Linked DNA regions of Homo sapiens: region 1 is reported to be linked to region 2. The links are microRNA targets in miRTarBase. Many come from high-throughput screens and were not tested one by one. Region 2 holds a microRNA gene; the other region holds the end of a gene's coding sequence.
Evidence for each region. The annotated mature microRNA hsa-miR-154-3p reads AAUCAUACACGGUUGACCUAUU and lies in region 2 at 1,474-1,495, opposite strand. An mRNA with a match to its seed (bases 2 to 7 or 8) in the 3' UTR can be bound and repressed. Matches are read on the target gene's strand: a 7mer-m8 pairs with bases 2 to 8, a 7mer-A1 pairs with bases 2 to 7 and ends in A, and an 8mer does both.

Region 1: the mRNA of ITGB8 is a reported target of hsa-miR-154-3p. Seed matches in the 3' UTR shown: 7mer-A1 at 3,069-3,075 and 7mer-A1 at 4,055-4,061.

What each region holds. Positions count from the first base shown.
Region 1 is chr7:20,409,382-20,413,781 of GRCh38, forward strand. ITGB8 (integrin subunit beta 8) reads left to right here. Exons shown (of 14, transcript NM_002214.3): 13 at 234-397; 14 at 494-4,400. The coding sequence ends at 616. Among named protein-coding and RNA genes, the nearest start is that of ITGB8-AS1, 80 kb to the left of the region's middle.
Region 2 is chr14:101,056,900-101,061,299 of GRCh38, reverse strand. It overlaps MIR154 (microRNA 154), which reads right to left and starts at 1,545; the gene lies at 1,462-1,545. MIR496 (microRNA 496) reads right to left here and starts at 727; the gene lies at 626-727.

The DNA.
Region 1 (4,400 bases), not on the chromosome of region 2:
TGGCTATTTCCCAAAGGAGGGTTTTCTATTGAAAATATTTTCATAGTAAACGCGCAAGAAAAATTAGAGAGCTTTTTGTTTTGAATCAAAGGTAATTTCAATCCCGATTTGAAAATGGAGATTTGCAAATATCTTTGGCACTATTAATTGAAGTGTGAACATTATTTACTTGATAGACTCTTTGATTTACTTATTCCAATTTTTAATCCATTTATTTGTTTGCTTCATTACAGAATGTTTCTCCAGCCCAAGCTACTTGAGAATATTTTTCATCATTTTCATAGTTACATTCTTGATTGGGTTGCTTAAAGTCCTGATCATTAGACAGGTGATACTACAATGGAATAGTAATAAAATTAAGTCCTCATCAGATTACAGAGTGTCAGCCTCAAAAAAGGTCAGTGAATTCTAAAAAAGAACTGCTAACAGTATGTTATTGCCTAGTTACAATATTTAGGCCCTTAGTTAATAATAATATTTCTTCTCTATTAAGGATAAGTTGATTCTGCAAAGTGTTTGCACAAGAGCAGTCACCTACCGACGTGAGAAGCCTGAAGAAATAAAAATGGATATCAGCAAATTAAATGCTCATGAAACTTTCAGGTGCAACTTCTAAAAAAAGATTTTTAAACACTTAATGGGAAACTGGAATTGTTAATAATTGCTCCTAAAGATTATAATTTTAAAAGTCACAGGAGGAGACAAATTGCTCACGGTCATGCCAGTTGCTGGTTGTACACTCGAACGAAGACTGACAAGTATCCTCATCATGATGTGACTCACATAGCTGCTGACTTTTTCAGAGAAAAATGTGTCTTACTACTGTTTGAGACTAGTGTCGTTGTAGCACTTTACTGTAATATATAACTTATTTAGATCAGCATAGAATGTAGATCCTCTGAAGAGCACTGATTACACTTTACAGGTACCTGTTATCCCTACGCTTCCCAGAGAGAACAATGCTGTGAGAGAGTTTAGCATTGTGTCACTACAAGGGTACAGTAATCCCTGCACTGGACATGTGAGGAAAAAAATAATCTGGCAAGTATATTCTAAGGTTGCCAAACACTTCAACAGTTGGTGGTTGAATAGACAAGAACAGCTAGATGAATAAATGATTCGTGTTTCACTCTTTCAAGAGGTGAACAGATACAACCTTAATCTTAAAAGATTATTGCTTTTTAAAGTGTGTAGTTTTATGCATGTGTGTTTATGGTTTGCTTATTTTTGCAAGATGGATACTAATTCCAGCATTCTCTCCTCTTTGCCTTTATGTTTTGTTTTCTTTTTTACAGGATAAGTTTATGTATGTCACAGATGACTGGATTAATTAAGTGCTAAGTTACTACTGCCATAAAAAACTAATAATACAATGTCACTTTATCAGAATACTAGTTTTAAAAGCTGAATGTTAATAGGGGACACTGTAAAGTATCATCAAAACCTGAATAGCTTCATTGTGCACAAGTGTGGAGTTTTGTATCCTCTTACCTGGTAAACTGAAGGGATTGTTTGGCCATTTCATTTATCTTATCATTAATTCACAAGATAGTTAGAAATTCTGCCTCAAGCAAAGTACCACATTTTGAATGTTTTCTTAGATTTTGATTGCAAGTAGATATCAGCATTTTTTAAATGAAAAGCTATATTATCTTCTCCCTTCAAGGCAGCCTAAGGATGTTCTTTCCCAGAATCACTCCAACCCTTCTTGCCAGAATTCATAAAAGTACAAAATTGGAGAATAGATGATATCTTAGAAATAAGCTTTTTTTTTTTTTTTTTTTTTTTTTGAGACGGAGTTTCACTCTTGTCACCCAGGCTGAAGTGCAATGGCGCAATTAGGGTTCACTGCAACCTCTGCCTCCCGGGTTCAAGCAGTTCTCCTGCCTCAGCCTCCTGAGTAGCTGGGATTACAGGCATCCACCACCGTGCCCAGCTAATTTTTGTATTTTTAGTAGAGACGGGGTTTTGCCATGTTGGACAGGTTGATCTCAAACTCCTGACCTCAGGTGATCTACCCTCCTCGGCCTCCCAGAGTGTTGGGATTACAGGCATGAGCCACCATGCCAGGCTGCTAATTCTCCTTTTTAGTGAGTTAGGGAACTGAGCCTCAGAAAACTTAAACGATTTCTCAGAAAACACTCAAGTGATAAAGTGGCCACATTGGAAAGGAGTTTTTATCTTCTCATTGTCAGGCCAGTGTTCATTGCACAATATCATGCTACCTCTTGAATCTTTAAAATATTCAATTGGCAAATGTTTTTCAATGTGATTTACTCATGTCTTAAGTGTATGAGGAAAGTTCAAAGCAAAATAGAAAGGAATAATTCAAACTGAATTGTCCATAATCAGCTTCCAGTCTTTCATGCTAATCAGCTTCTTAAGAGACTGAAGTATGGCATACCTACAGGGGAATTCCTTCGCACCATAGCCTGTATGAACAGTGTTCCCTGGAGTTCTCCAGTGCTCAGCTTGAGACCTTGATACACGGGCCATGAGCCCTGTCTTCCCCAATGGAAATTTATTTACACTTACCTTATCCCTATGGACTTAGTCTGATTTTATTGGCTAGGAGTCTAACAGTCCTGTGTGGATATACAGTTTTGCCCATGACAACAAAGGAATCTATCCGAAATATCTTTTTTTTTATAATAAACTTCCAAGATTTGCTGTCTTCCAGCACTTGAGTTAAAGTACTAGATACTGCATTTTGATGAAGACTAACCCCATCTCATATTCTACCCTAAAGAGAACTGAAAAACCTATAATAAGTTGTTCTGGAGCCAATAAACACAGCAGCTCTGTTAGATGTCCTCTACAGCCAAGCACTTTCAATGCTAACTTGAACTGCATTTCCTTCCTCAAATGAGAGATTGACATAATTCAGTACTGTGAGTCACTTGTATAAGAAACCTTTGATCACTAAAAATAATGTAAAAATTGGGTTTAGTAGCCTAATACACATAACGTTCTTCTTAAAAAGGAAAATGGATGGATGCCTGACAACCCTCCAAAAGAAAAAAGTGTAAGATAGCCATTAAGATGATGACAATTTTTGAAATGAACATTATGATATTTATGAACAATAAACAAATTTCCGTATGGAATGAATTATCCAAAAAGAGTATAACAAAATGAAATCCTTAAAAATCCAGAGTTTATATTTTTTTTATACCCTCACTTGTTTGCACTAACTTTATAGTGGACCAAGGCTGTTACCATAGGAAGGGACAAACTTCCTTGTAGGCAACTCAGTGTTAGACGATGATTGTGGTTATGCTTGCAAAGTCTTGTGCTTATCTTTTTTGTTTTTACTTAAAAAGCTAATTTTTAAAGATTGTAGGGCTTGTATTTTACTTGAATAATTGATATCTTCCTGTGTAATGATTTGTGAGATGAGAATTAATATTTGACTAGTTAGAATTAATTAAATGGTAAGGGAACACAGGGTACTCTTAGGTTAAATAATGTATGCAAATAGAGTCTATTTTCAACTAATATGGCCACAGGAGCCTTTTGAGATTCATTGATATTAAACACAATTAATGAAATTTTAAATTGTTAACAGAATTGAGAACTTGAACAACACTTTTAGTACTGCAGCATTTTTGTGCCCTAAAGTATGTAATGATTTATAAATGTGCCATACATACACTACAACATAACATTTGCTTTGTTATGCATTTTATTTCTCTGGGGACACCATTGCACTGCAGTGCACACGTATTTATAAACATTTGTTATATTTTTGGAAACTTGCTAATATTTATTAAGTCATAGACTTTTCTGGAGGACTTAAAAATTCACTAAAAATCTGATTATGTCTTAAATGTTCAGTTTATCTTTGGTTTATTAAAATAAAAAAAAAATCTAAGATTAAACACAGTAGATATCTCTGGAGGCAATTTTCCAAAACTCAACATTAAAATTTGTGGATGCATGAGATGCAATCCTTCAAAGAATGAATCTGAAATATATTTTTAATATTTACTTAATATCCACTGAAGATATCTTTATGCAAGACAAGAGTCAGCCATCAGACACTGAAATATATTATGATAGATTATGAAGAATTTTCTCTGTAGAATTATATTCTTCCTGGAACCTGGTAGAGTAGATTAGACTCAAAGGCTTTTTCTTCCTTTTCTTACTCCTGTTTTTTCCACTCACTCTTCCCAAGAGATTTCCTAAAGCTTCAAGCTTAATAAGCCTAATAGTGAAAAATAACTGAATTTAATGGTATAATGAAGTTCTTCATTTCCAGACATCTTTAATTGATCTTAAAGCTCATTTGAGTCTTTGCCCCTGAACAAAGACAGACCCATTAAAATCTAAGAATTCTAAATTTTCACAACTGTTTGAGCTTCTTTTCATTTTGAAGGATTTGGAATATATATGTT
Region 2 (4,400 bases):
AAACAATGCTTATCCTACAGCCACGTGCCAGACGCTGTCTAGACACTTCACAAAGAGCACGTTTCCACTCCGCTGTTAACCCTGCTTTACAGAGGAAGAGACTGAGGCCCAGAGAGCTGATAGGTGAAGGGATTTTCCAAGGGCACACAGCTGGCAACATAAGGTAGTAATAAATGCTATTAACAATTCTCGTCTTGCAGTAGGAATAACCGAGTCGTGCCATGGAAATGTGTCTTTAAACAACATTAATTCTCACTGCTGAGGAAACCCCCTTCACCCCTTGCTTCCCAGAGGTCACCCAGAAGATAAGGTATTTGAGGGCGTAATGTGGATGTCTTCCATTCAGCCAGGAGTTCCTTTCCCTAAAGTGTGCCACACAGCCAAGATGATTTCACACCTAAAAAGGTTGACTAAATGTGGTTTATTCACTGACGAGTCTTCAAGGATGCGACTAGAAGACCACCATGTCAACTAAAACGTCAGCATCATTTCGGGGAATTCCTCCTAATGATGGCCGGGATATGAGCCAAGTGATGTAAGTCACACAGAGAGCACCTGTCATGCGGAGGTGATCCACTTCCTTACCCTGCGCAGGTGCCGGCTGGGCTTTCCCCTCGTGACGTTTCCCAAGAAGAATTGAGTACCGAAAGGAGATTGGCCATGTAATACTCATCATAAATAAAATGAACACACCATGGACAACCTCCATTCGAGTACCTGACTTGGGTGCTCGCTTCCAGCGCGTCCCAGCAGCAGGCCTGAGGACGGACGGGATACTGAGAGTCAGGAAGGTGGCAACACACCACCCACGAAATAAGCTCTGCGGTCCGGGCCGCACTCCATCCCTTACTTGCAATTAGCACCTCTTGCAGGAAGCCATTCAGGGAGGGAAGTGCCACAGCAGAGAGGTCTGCAGAGCACCATCTGTGATACATGAAGAGAGGGCAGCAGGGAAGACAGCAAGACGGTGTCTTGTCAAACATGCAGTGAGCCGATGAGGGAACTGCCGCCTCTTTCGAGGAAACTGCCATGGTAAGCAAGCAGGACGCCTGCAGGTGCACGACCCACCAAGAAGAGTGTGCACACTGTCAGCTTCGCCGTGCGTTCAGGCATTCAGACACCAGTTCTAGTTCCTAAACTCGGCACCACCCGAGGGTGCTTTAAGGCTAGATTTAATGCTTTCAAAAGAGTCCACTATGTAGGATTGGTCAAAAAATAAATCGAATGCATCATGGAAGACCTCTCCACCAGTACCACAGAGTAGCTCTGATAGGAAAAGCTCCACTTCTTCCCCAAAGGTGGCACCATCTCTAGAAACCTCCCCAAGGACGGGGCACACACAGGGTTAGGGCCAGGGCACACTGCTGGGTCGGCTATGGTCAATGGTCCCCTTCCTTACCCTGGAGAGGAGCTGACACCCTGAAGTAAGACTCCGCTCCAGGAAGCCCTCCAAGGCGGGATTTGGTACTGAAAAATAGGTCAACCGTGTATGATTCGTCACAAATAAAGCGAAGGCAACACGGATAACCTATCTTCAAGTACCACACGCTAGCGCAGACCCAATGTCAATGCCTGTTCTCCAAAGTTGGCCTCCTCCAGGAAGTCCCCCTAGGAGACAGTGAACATTGACGGTTAGCAGACGGACTGCAAGAGGGTTGAGAAGAAAGCACACGCCCTGTATTCAACCATTCCATCCCGGACCCTGCAGCCATCCAGACCTCAATGCCTTTGCCAAGGTGGGTGCATGTCTAAAGGAGCACTGCCAGGGAACCTGATGGTGGAGAGGCCAAGTGCACAGAAACTCAGCATTTGGATCAGAGCAGGGCACATTCCCTCATCTCACATTAGCATCGAGGCTGACAGTAATGATCCTTTCCTTACACAGGCCTTGTGTCCAGGAACCCTCCAAAGCTGAGTCCATGACAAAGAGACTGACTTTACAATATTGATCATACAGAAACAAACAGCATTGAATGCAAACTTTATTAGACCATGGCATGGCACTGACCTCAGAATCATGGCCTCATCCCCAAAGGTGAGCATAATTTCCAGGAAGTCTTCCTAAGGATAGATTGCATGCTTGGGGTTAATGGTACTTCATATATGGTTTTTCAAACTCTTCCATTGTTAGCAGAAAATTCACATACCTGGCCAGTGGTGCTGACTCCCACGACCATCTCAGAAGTGGCATTGCCATAAGGCATCCTGCCAGGGTGGAAGGTGACACTGAGGAGGGGGCATCTGGGTAGGATTGTTTTAAATAGACAAATGCACAGTGCAAATGACAACAGACTGACGTGCAGACAGATGGCAGCAAGGGGCCAGATGACAGACTTTCTTCTCCTCCAGTACACAATGAAATGAACAAAACAGATTATTTCACCAAAGAAAAAACCAACACCTGGAGTAGAAAAGTGCTCATAAAATGAATAAATCCTTGAAACAAAGGAACGATTAAATCTACTCATCAAGAAGGCATATTATGATTCAGAAAAACTAATGAATAAAAATAGTGACTGAGTCATAACCCGGTAAAGTCACCAACGTTCAAGACTAAAGAAAGAATCAGGAAATCTAAGCAGGAAAAAAAAAAAGTTCATCCATCCAAGGGAAAGCAGCTGTCCCCAGGCTTGTCCACAGCAATGGTTTAACACCAGAAAGCAATGGAGGCAAGTTTACAAAGTTCAGAGGGAAGAAACTGGGAGCCAAGAATGTCATGCCAAGTTCACCCATCATTCAGCTCAAAGGCTCCATCCCAGCAACAAGCACTGATAGGGAACCCTCTCCTCCACAAACATTGAGAAGTGTTGGATAAAATGCAACAGCAGGCAAAATCAATTCCCAAATAAACATACAGCTGAAAGGCAAAACCCTCAGGTGTTAATGAAAAGAATTAGTTCATGCAACCTGCCACTAAGGGATCTAAGGGATGCTGTGCTGGCTAGAGGCTCCAAGGGTCTACAGTCAAGTTCAAGTACAAGCAGGATGAAAAGACATGACCGTGCATCCAGGAGAAGTTGATCTGGGAATGGAAAGGGGAACCAGAAAATTTTATAATGGCCAGGGATAAGAGAATTTGTCATTTTTAGGGAGTGGATAGAATGAGGTCTCCTGTGAGATACCAAAGGTTCAGGACAAAGATATGGTGAGGACTTCTGCCAGCCATATGTCTGGGAATCCTTAAGCCAACAAAATGAGTTGAAAAACTGGTACCAACTGGTAAATTCCTTGGGGTACCAGGCAGAACCAAATGCAAACTCATGTGCATAGGGATTGAAACAAAACAGAAACACCTAAGTGCTCAACTGATGATAACCTCACAACACAAAGCTACAAAAACCATGAAGAAAAGCACCATCATGAGAGTCAATAGATTCAACAAAGAAAGGGGCTTGTATCCCTAAAGCTGAAAGAAATTATACAATAAATATCTTTAAAGTGACTAAAGAAATTTTAAAAACTTGAAATCATAAAGGCCAAATAGAACAGAATGAAAAAAAAATGGACAGATGGGAAAAGGTGTAAGAGCAATGGTCAGACATTCTCAGAGACGAAATACCTCACAGAACATAGTACCTCAAAGTCTTTCCAACAAGGTTTGTGAAGATCGCTAGATAAAATAGTCCAGGTAAGTAAGAGCTACATGGAGAAGCCACATTAAGACAGCTAGTGAAAGCCTCAATGCAAAAAACAGTGGACAATAGCTATAAATTTCTGAGAAAAAACAAGTAGGCTGAGACTTTTATACCTAGTTAAGCTGTCCCTTGTGCATAAAGAGATATATACTCTCAAATGCACAGGAACTCAAGGGTAGTGTCTATGAGCTATTCTCACAGAAACAATAAGATCATTTCCATTGAGAGATAAATTAAACTTAAAAACTAAAGAACGGAGAAACCTCAGTTAAAAAAAAACAAACCTTGTGGTCAGAAATGAATTCATTTAAATATAGAACTATGGCAAAACACCTGCAAGAATTATAGTTCTAGAACAAATTGCAGATATTTATAATGTAAAATTAAAATGTATAATTGAGAAAAAGCAGGAGATAGTAAGCAAAGGAAGAATAAGAATGCTGACTTCTTTATCTTTCTGAACTAGGAGTGAAATTGAAATAGTTAAAAACCATAACAATCCTAACCACTTAATTTTTACACTCTAATTTTTCTTAATTTTACAGGGATCTTTTAGGAGTTGCTACCTGTGGTGGTAAAGCGAGAAACATTTATCAATCATTTCAATCTCCTTTAGCTTGTTTTTTATGATAAATTCAAGGAAAATTATAGTTAGCATTTTTAATAAAATGATTAGGTACAGTGTGATCTCATATTTTCCCTGCGTCTGTCTTGTTTTTCTATTTGCATGTATGCTCAGACAGGTGTATGAAATTTCTAAAGCCC